Homo sapiens: one gene and its partners. The protein of the gene in region 3 purifies or fractionates together with the protein of the main gene of each other region. This does not show direct contact. Each region holds a gene or a part of one and is shown on either strand. Other genes may lie near its edges.

Region 1 (3,500 bases), on a different chromosome or scaffold from region 3:
TTTTTACCCAAAAAGTTCCTGTTGAGCAATTTCAGAAACTCTTCACAGAGTTCCAACAATGTACTAGAACTATGAAATCTGCATTTTAGATTACACTAATTTATATTGGATAGTCTACACAAATACTTTATAGTTTCTAGGACAGAAGTTATATAATAAAATTATACCTGCAGTTCTTCTTATAACTACTTACATTTCCTTCAAATGTCTTATTTCTTGAATTGTTTGAAAAGCAAGTTCTTGTAGCTTTTCTGGGGCAAAGCTATTATTTATGGCTTTTTGAAACACCTCATGGAGAACCGTACCAATTAGCATTTGGCGTGTGGCTGGATCAGAGCTCTACAAAAGCAAATCACACAGTTTATTTCACAACATATTAACAGACACAATTGTATATTTATTACCTAATCTATTAAACCACCATAGCCAAAATGCACTGGTAAGACAAATGCCAAAATATTAAAAAAATTTTTTTCTGGTGCGTGGAATTATAAGTGACTTTCACTTTCTTCTATCCAGAATTGTCTGAATTACTGTATGAGTTATCCTTTTTTTTTTCTTTTTTGAGACAGAGTCTTGCTCTGTCACCCAGGCTGGAGCACAGTGGCACAATCTCAGCTCACTGCAACCTTCATCTCCCAGGTTCAAATGATTCTCATGCCTCAACCTCCCAAGTAGCTGGAATTACAGGTGTGTGCTATCATGCCCGGCTAACTTTTATTTTTTGTATTTTTAGTAGAGGCAGGGTTTCACCATGTTGGCCAGGCTGATATGAATTACTTTTAAAATCAATGTTCTCCATTTTGAAAAAAATTAAAATAACCAATATTTTAAAATTCAAAATATTCTCAAATAATTAATATTTAAAGTATTGTTCTCTTATTTCACTTGATAATCCACCCAATAGAAAAGTCAATAAAGGCATAGCTGATAAACTCATGTAAGTAAAAGATACCATTCAAACATAAAATGTAAACCTACTTAGCAGTAATGTTTGGGAAGAAAAAAAATTTTTTTAACCTACAGCAGAGATTTTTGGCAAGGAATTTTTCTCCACTCAAAAAGAAACACTACATTTCTTGATTAACTCTTGTATTAGCCTAGACCTTTTTTTTTTTTTTTTGAGACAGAGTTTCGCTCTGTCACCCAGGCTGGAGTGCAGCCGCGCGACTTTTGCTCACTGCAAGCTCCGCCTCCCAGGTTCACGCCATTCTCCTGCCTCAGCCTCCCGAGTAGCTGGGACTACAGGCGCCCGCCACCACACCCGGCTAATTTTTTTGTATTTTTAATAGAGATGGGGTTTGACCATGTCAGCCAGGATGGTCTTGATCTCCTGACCTCGTGATCCGCCAGCCTTGGCCTCCCAAAGTGCTGGGATTACAGGCGTGAGCCACTGCGCCCGGTCCAAAAAGTTTTTTAAAACTTAATATTCAGGCCAAGCACAGTAGCTCATGCCTATAGTCCCAGCTACTAGGGAGGCTGAGGTGGCCTGGGAGGTCAAGGCTTCAGTGACACACTGCACTCCAGCCTGGGTGACACAGTGAGACTCAAAATAAAATAAAAGTACGTTTCAAGAAAAATATATAAAAAGCTGGGTGTTGGGTACGATCATCTCTTTGTATGTTTGAAATAGCCCAAAATACATTTTTGTTTGTTTTGAGACGGAGTCTCCCTCTATCTCCCACCGTGAAGTGCAGTGGTGGGATCTCAGCTCACTGCAACCTCCGCCTCCAGGGTTCAAGCAATTCTGCCTCAGCCTCTCGAGTAGCTAGGATTACAGGCGCGCACCACAACGCCCGGCTAATTTTTGTGTATTTAGTAGAGACTGGTTTTCATCATGTTGGTCAGGCTGGTCTTGAACTCCTGACTTCATGAACTGCTCACCTCGGCCTCTCAAAGTGCTGGGATTACAGGCGTAAGCCACTGCGCCCAGCCCCAAAATACGTTTTTTTTTTGAGACTTTTTATTTTAAAATAAAACTGCATGTTTCAAGAAAAATAAATAAAAAGCTGGGTGTTGAGTACATGGGAGTTTATTACAATCATCTCTTTGTATGTTTGAAATAGTCCAAAATACATTTTTGTTTGTTTGTTTTGACACAGAGTCTTGCTCTGCCGCCCAGGCTAGACTGCAGTAGCATGATCTCGGCTCACTGCAACCTCCATCTCCCGGGTTTAAACGATTCTCCTGCCTCAGCCTCCTGAGTAGCTGGGACTACAGGTGCACGCCACCACACCTGGCTAATTTTTCTAGCAAAATACATTTTTTAAAAGCAGTTTGCACATTTATTTTTAGTTTAGTGGGAATCACATGAAGCCAACTTTGGAAATGTCTAGGTGTGTTTAAATTTAAAAGTTTATCATTTAAATTAATTTTCTTATTATAATTAGTTATTTTATTAAGCCCTGAACAAGATTCGAAGGACTCAGGCACCTGGCCTTTAGTCCTAGCACTGCCACCTCATAGTTATGTGGCTATGGGGCAAGTCACTTCACCTCTCTGAGCCCATTTTCCTCATCTATAAAATGCAGCTAATTAATACCATTTATTTTATAGGGTTGCTGGGAGGATTAAGTGAAATAATAAATGTAAAAGTGCTCTGTAAAACTCTCAGACCCTGCAGAAACATTAACTGTTACTATTATTTACCCTAAAAGTTTCACTCAGGACAGCTCTTCTCATACATCGAATACTACTGGCTATGCTGGTGCCAGAAATCAGCATGTCTGGATACAGAATCAAATATCCAAAATCTTTATCTATTATCCAAGTGTCAGATGTGCAGTCTCCCTCCAAATGAATGATATCTCCTGGCTCTACTGGAACAGAACACCTGAAAATAAAGCAAAGTTAAAGTATAAATACATAGCTTAGGTTCCTACATGTAAACGTATTAGGGAGGCTTCAAAAAAATAAATGAGTATTTTATCTGAAGAAGAAAAAAATATTTCTAAATTTCTGGGTCTTTAAAAAAAAAAATCAAATAGCAGGATACAGTCTTCTAAAACAACCCCTAGTTATTCTACCCCTTTCTATGTGTCAAACACATCTGAGAATACTCAAGGGTCTTCTATAAATCCCAAAGGGAAAACAACTTAGTGCCAGTAAAGTCTATTGCAAAAGCTATCAAAAAACCTTTGCTAATGTAATATATAGCTCCAATTATGAATTGGGTTGTTTTAATAATTTACTCTTTCTTAAGACTTTTAGGAAATCTACAGCTTGTATAAGTCTTGAAGCATGAAGCCAAATCCAGTGTAGCAAGAATAAAATCAAACTGAACTAGTTGAAACTAGGCCAGGCGCGGTGGCTCATGCCTATAATCCCAGCACTTTGGGAGGCCGAGGCAGGTGGATTCCTGAAGTCAGGAGTTCAAGACCAGCCTGGGCAACATGGTGAAACCCCGTCTCTACTAAAAATACAAAAATTAGCCGGGCGTGGTGGCGGACGCCTGTAATCCCAGCTACTTGTGAGGCTGAGGCAGGAGAATCGCTTGAACC
Region 2 (3,275 bases), on a different chromosome or scaffold from region 3:
TGCGGGTGTCAGTGAGGCCGAAACTCCCACGGATAGAATCTGGGGCCACATGGCGTGCTCGGAACACTCTGGTGGGTCCCATGAGCGTCCTCCAGAGCTGGATGGCATCCTTGTGGGCAAGGATGTAGGCTCGGATTGGCCCGCTGTGAACAAAACAAGCACATGTAAAGAACCTGGCCATCTAGACTAGGAGGGTGTGCTGTGAGCAGGGCCTGAATAAAAACACACTCTACGTTCTGAGAGTTTTCCTGCCTTTCCAGCTGAGTACCAATGCTGCTTCAAATAGGTGATGCAGGGCCCCTGCTGGTGTACATCAAGCCTGCAGAGATCAGCAGGGTGGCTATGCAGCATTCAAGGGGACTCTTCTAACCACCAGAGGACAGGTGCCTAACAGGTCAGCATCGGCTCAGTGACAGCCCCAAACCCGTGTTTCTTCAGATTTGACATTGTTTACAACTTTATTTTTTGAGATGGAGTCTCACTCTGTTGCCCAGGCTAGAGTACAATGGTTCAATCTCGGCTCACTGCAACCTCTGCTTCCTGAATTCAAGTGATTCTCCTGCCTCAGCTTCCCGAGTAGTTGGGATTACAGGCACCCGCCACCATGCCTGGCTAATTTTTTGCTGTTGTTGTTGTTTTTGAGACGAAGTTTCACTCTTGTTGCCCAGGCTAGAGTGCAGTGCCACGATCTTGGCTCACTTCAACCTCCACCTCCCAGGTTCAAGCGATTCTCCTGCCTCAGCCTCCCGAGTAGCTGGGATTACAGGCACCTGCCACCATGCCGGGCTAATTTTTTGTATTTTTAGTAGAGACGGTGTTTCACCACATTGGCCAGGCTGGTCTCAAACTCCTGACCTCAAGTGATCCACCCGCCTCAGCCTCCCAAAGTGCTGGGATTACAGGCATGAGCCACCGTGCCTGGCCTGATTACAACTTTAAAGAATGGCAGTGAAATGAACAAATCCATTTAGGGGCAGGGGAGATTAGCCTCAGTGGATAAAGATGCTGGAACCAAATTTGAAGTACCTGGCCATGAACTCCACCAGCCTCTGATAGAAAAAACGCCCTGCAAAGAGAGAGGACCTTCATCAAGATACCTTCATCCTGGTGCCCAAGGCAACTTTCTGTACTTCTACCTCCTTACCTAGAATAATAAAAATTGTTTCAGAGAAAAGAACAAGGACCTTGGAGTCTGACAAACCTGGGTCTGAATCCAGGGTCTGCCACTTACAACCTGCGTAGTTTTGGGTAAATCATTAACCTCCTAAACTTGGCTTCCTAATCTGCGTACGAGGGATATAACAACACCTACTTTTTAGGGTTGTTGGGAAAATTGAATGAAAAAATGAGCATTAGGACAATGTCTGATGGTAAACATTCATTCACTATATGTTAACTACTGATATTATCAAGACATAAAACTAAGTTTCTGGTTGGGACTACAAGGTAGAACCCTCCTTGGGAAAAGATGGATAATCATGAAAAGTGTGTGTTTTAAACCAAGATTTTAGAAAACTGGCTGCAACTGTACACGGTTGGTAGGTCAGAGAGCCTGCCATTGTGTTCCAGGTAAAATCTCTCTTATGGCCTCTTGGGATTGAGGCACCTTCCATTCAGAGGACTACTGATCCTACCTTCATGCTCTCGGTAAAACCTCTGGCAATCTTCCTTTCTCCACAGTAGTTCTCTCATTCGTACAATCAGGAACTTGTTGCTTAGAATCTGCTGATGAACAGCCTGAATAAAGACCATCCCCAAAATAAAAATCAATCAGGAGACTGAAACTGACCAAAAGAAACCATGAGGACCACTTGTTGCTCAGGACCTGAGGGTTTGTCCCATTGAAGGGTGAGAAGACGAGGTGGGGTGAGGTGAAGACCTTCAGTCACACAGCCAGAGTGTGCACCTTGGGTGAAAGGGGATAGGATGCGCTGTCTCTGCTCTTCCATACCTATAACCCCTTGAGCTCAAGACCACAGGACCCACCACTCAGACCACCATAAAAGTCTTGTTAGTGGTCCTGCCTTGGGTTTCTCTCACTCCCTCCAAACCATCACACTTGATAGATGAGAAACTCTATAATTGACACGTCACACTCTGGTCAGAAGGTGTTAAGTAGTTCCTGTTATTCAAGGAATGAAGTACAACCACTTTAGCCCAGTGCTCAAGGTTATACTTTCCTTACTCTGTACCAATTCTCTAGTCTCACCATCGCAGGCTGCCTGCGGCCCTCAGACCCATCACATGCATTCCTGCCTCAGCGTCTCCCTTCTGTGCAACACCTGTCCTTCTCCTGGCACTAACCAAAGTTTACCATTCCTTTGAGGCCCAGCTGAGTCCTGCCACTTCCAGGCCCCCACTCCTGACTGCTTAGATCTTCCTCTGCACCATAGTGGGCTTACTTAGCAGTGCTACTCAGTTAGTATTTATCAAACTATGGTACACAGAATGTGAAAATGACCCCGAGCCCCACCAAGATTTCCCACCCTAATCTCCAGGACTGTGAATATGATGCAATATGATTATGTTACATTACATAACAACAGGGATTTTGAGGGAAATTAAGGTTACTAATCAGTTGATTCTGCTGTAATCAAAAGGGAGATTATCCAGGTGGGCCTAATTAATCACATGAGCCCTGTGGGATTAGAATTGTGAAGGCTTCTCAATGCCAGGCATTTTCTCTGGCTAGAGGCTGAAGAAGTCAGAGAGATTCAAAGCATGAGAAGGATTCAATGCACTGCAGCTGTCTTGAAGACAGACTGGGCCATGTGATGAGGGATGTGAGTGGTATCTAGAAACTGAAAGGAGTTCCTGCCTGAAGGCCAACAGGGAAATGGCAGCCTCAGTCCTACCATCATAAGAAATCAACTCTGCCAACAACCTGAATGAGTCTGGAAGTGAATTCTTCCCCCAGACCCTCCAGATAAGGACCTGGTCAGCCAATACCTTGACTTTGGCCTTGTGAGACCTTAAGCAAACAACTCAGCCAAGCCTACTGGACCTCTAAACTACTGAACTGTGAAATAACAAATAAGTGTTGTTTTAAGCTCTCAAGTCTGGAGTAATGTGTTATGTAGCAATAGAAACTAACAAATACACATTGTCTTGATATTCGGTTCTATTATTGCTTTGGGTCCTTTCTTACATTTTAGGTCTGCCTCAAGTCTCCAATGGATTCTTAGTCTCCTTAGGTCAGAGTTCATGGCTTCTAGCTTTGCCTCCACAGCATCCAGCACAAGTCTGTGTTGTCAGTCACCATAAATGGCCCAATG
Region 3 (3,500 bases):
ATCTGTGTCTTCGTTTTCTGACACAGCTCATTCTTTTCAGTTCCATTGTAACTACAAATTAGTACTTGTCTTTTCTCACTGAAGACTAAAAACCAAAGTAGTTTTACTGGCTTCTCAAAAGTGACTTTTATTTTATTTTATTTTAAACGTCTTTTGAAGTCTAGTAAAGGGTATTATCTTTGGAGTAGTTATTGGAAACCTAATTTTAGGGGCATGAGAATGTTAGAAAACCTTAATTAAAAAGGCATCTCTTGATTTTAAATACAATTTTTTGATACATGTTTTTAATTTTGTTTTAGCACCTTCTAAGTGAGCAACACAGAAACTTTGCACAGAGTAACCAGTATCAAGTTGTTGATGATATTGTATCTAAGTTAGTTTTTGACTTTGTGGAATATGAAAAGGACACACCTAAAAAGAAAAGGTAATTAGTTTTATCAACCTAAGTTTTAAATTCTACTAGGCGGCCAGGGGTGGTGGCTCATGCCTGTAATCCCAGCACTTTGGGAGGCTGAGGCAGTTGGATCACTTGAGGTCAGGAGTTCGAGACCAGCCTAGCCAACATGGCAAAACCCCATCTCTACTAAAAAAATAAAAAATTAGCCGGGTGTGGTGGTTGCACACCTGTAATCCCAGCTACTCGGGAGGCTGAGGCAGAAGAATCACTTGAAACCCAGGAGGCAGAGGTTGCAGTGAGCCAAGATTGCACCACTGCACTCCAGCCTGGGTGACAGTGAGACTCCGTCTCAAAAATAAATAAATAAATTATACTAGAATATTAAACTATTAAACTAAAAATAAACACAGTTTTCCTGTTCTTAGAAGGAATATGTATTTTCGGGATGTAAATATGGTTAAAAACCAGTAGCTTCTTCCCTACTATCAAAGATCCTTACCTTAGACTACTTTTAGTTCCATTCTTTTTAAATTTTCTTTTTATGTAAAACTTTTCCTTTTTTAAATTTTTTGTTTTATTTTGAGACAGTCTCGCCCTATCACCCAGGCCGGAGTGCAGTTGCATAATCTTGGCTCACTGCAACCTCTGCCTCCCAGGTACAAAAGATTCTCATGCCTCAGCCTCCTGAGTAGTTGGGATTACAGGCGTGTGCCACTACACCCCACTAATTAGTCTCATTCTTGACACTGTAGTTTAGAAGGAGTTGGCTGACTTTTCCTGTAAAGAGCCAGATAGTTGATATTTTAGGTTTTGTGAGCCGTAAGATCTCTGTTGCAACTAATTAGCTTAGCTTTTTTGTACAATGGATATGACTGTATTTTGACGCAATTTTATTTGGAAAAATAGACTGACGGCTAGATTTTGCCCACAGGCTATATAGTGTATCAGCTCCTGTTGTAGAACCATAAAGTTTACCATTTACTCAGACTAAAACATTTTATTGAACTTTTAGGTAATATTAAGGAGTTTTAAGAAAACTTCCTCCACTTGCCCCTTAGGTCTTTATATTTCACTAAATATCTTTGCCTAAACCTTATGATGGGTATGTTTACTAAAGGTACTGACAGGACTTTTAAGTGTGAATACAGTACTGCTCAATGTACACCAACTGCACATTGACAAAAATTGTCCTGATTAGATTATTCCTATAAACTTAAAGGGATGGTTTCATATGGATATACCCTAGAGGTGGTGATAACTCATTAAGTTAGTCTTTATTCTTAGACTAATCTTACTTAAGACATAAAGAAGATTAGAAATGTGATAACAAGATACAGCTTCTGAAAATTAACCAGAAAGTTTTTTTACTTCAGGTAAAACAGTTCTTAAATTCCATATTTCTGTGACATTCAGAATGGTTTCATGACTGACTTAATATGGATTTGAAGAGAAGGCATATTTCCAACTATTAAAACTATGTGGGCTACTGTGCCCAGGCAGGGTGTCTCACACCTGTGGTCCCAGCACTTCGAAAGGCCGAGGCGGGCAGATCACTTGAGGCCAGGAGTTCCAGACCAGCCTAGCCAACGTGGTGAAAGCCCATCTCCACTGAAAAAAAAAAAAAATTAGGTGGTGGCACATGCCTGTAGTCCCAACTACTTAGGAGGCTGAGGCGCAAGAATCACTTGAACCCGAGAAGCAGAGGTTGCAGTGAGCTGAGATCAGGCCACTGCACTCCAGCCTGGTTGACAGAGAGACTCTGTCTCAAAAAAAAACAAAAAACAAAAAAACTATGTGGGCTACTCTAAGAACTTATAATTCCCTAAAAACTCAGTCTGCAGCAAAATTCTGAGCTAGTACTGGTTGTTCCTTAATTGTCACTTCTGTGGGCAAGTGTCCTAAACATCTTGGACTTAAAAGCCATGTTAGAGTAGTTTTTTTTTTTTTTTTTACATTTTTTTATTGCCCATTTGTTCAAAGAGAATTGTTTGTAAGTAAATGTATGAACAAGATAAAAAAGAACATTCTGGTTGAAGGGGCAGGAAAAATTGTATTATTTCTCACAGTTAATCTGTGACATGCGGAACACAAAATGTAATTGGTGAGCTATTAACTTTTTCTCTAATTGTATATTATTTAGGTTTGTCTAATACAAACTGGAATTTCAGGGATATCAAGATGCTCCATGAAGAAAATAATTTTAGGTCAAATATGTTTGAAGCTTAAAAGTTACAACTTTGTCACCTTTGAAAGTATAAAGATACTAAGTTTCTAGCTCACTTTGATATTAAATATTCTTAAATGTAAATTTAAAATATATGTTTTTGCCATAGGTTTCTCAGTAAATACTTATTCTCCACATTGCTAAGTAAAATGAAGAGTAAAATGTGCATTAATGTAAATCAAAGCACAGAAGTTAAGAAATTGTTCAGAATAATGAAAGCAAAATTAGGGGCAGGCTCAAATCCCTTTACTATCAATTTCTTTCATTTACATGATTAAAGTAATTTTAAATGTCAAAATTCAGGATATTGGTTATCTGGGAGGGAGGCAGGGAATGTAGAGGAGAAGAGAGGTACACTAGGGTTTTCAGCTATATCTGAAAAGTTGTATTACTTTAAAAACAGCTCAAGTAAATTTGGCAAAATGTTAAGATGTTTGTATTTTTGTAAAATTTCCTAAGTTAAATAGGTTTCTTAAAGATTATATAATGTTTTTACTAATTTAATTTCTAACTACTCAGGAATTTGTTTTGATAGCAATTATTTTAATATTTTTCTTCTATTTTTCCTACAAAGAATAAAATACAGTGTTGGATCCCTTTCTCCTGTTTCTGCAAGTGTCCTGAAAAAGACTGAACAAAAGGAAAAAGTGGAATTGCAACATATTTCTCAGAAAGATTGCCAGGAAGATGATACAACAGTGAAGGAGCAGAATTTCCTGTATAAAGAGACCCAGGAAACTGAAAAAAAGCTCCTGTTTATTTCAGAGCCCATCCCCCACCCTTCAAATGAATTGAGAGGGCTTAATGAGAAAATGAGTAATAAATGTTCCATGTTAAGTACAGCTGAAGATGACATAAGACAGAATTTTACACAGCTAC

The links.
Region 1: the proteins of DBF4 (region 3) and DNA2 purify together in Homo sapiens (affinity purification with mass spectrometry; one large-scale study listed by BioGRID and IntAct). This does not show direct contact.
Region 2: the proteins of DBF4 (region 3) and NME6 purify together in Homo sapiens (affinity purification with mass spectrometry; one large-scale study listed by BioGRID and IntAct). This does not show direct contact.

Annotation. Positions count from the first base shown.
Region 1 is NC_000010.11:68,465,474-68,468,973, forward strand, and holds part of DNA2 (DNA replication ATP-dependent helicase/nuclease DNA2), read right to left. Parts: intron 2,834-3,500; coding exon 2,650-2,833; intron 340-2,649; coding exon 194-339; intron 1-193. UniProt on the Homo sapiens protein: Key enzyme involved in DNA replication and DNA repair in nucleus and mitochondrion.
Region 2 is NC_000003.12:48,295,093-48,298,367, forward strand, and holds part of NME6 (nucleoside diphosphate kinase 6), read right to left. Parts: intron 1,738-3,275; coding exon 1,635-1,737; intron 1,067-1,634; coding exon 1,027-1,066; intron 144-1,026; coding exon 1-143. UniProt on the Homo sapiens protein: Major role in the synthesis of nucleoside triphosphates other than ATP. The ATP gamma phosphate is transferred to the NDP beta phosphate via a ping-pong mechanism, using a phosphorylated active-site intermediate. Inhibitor of p53-induced apoptosis.
Region 3 is NC_000007.14:87,903,993-87,907,492, forward strand, and holds part of DBF4 (protein DBF4 homolog A), read left to right. Parts: intron 1-299; coding exon 300-424; intron 425-3,195; coding exon 3,196-3,500. UniProt on the Homo sapiens protein: Regulatory subunit for CDC7 which activates its kinase activity thereby playing a central role in DNA replication and cell proliferation. Required for progression of S phase.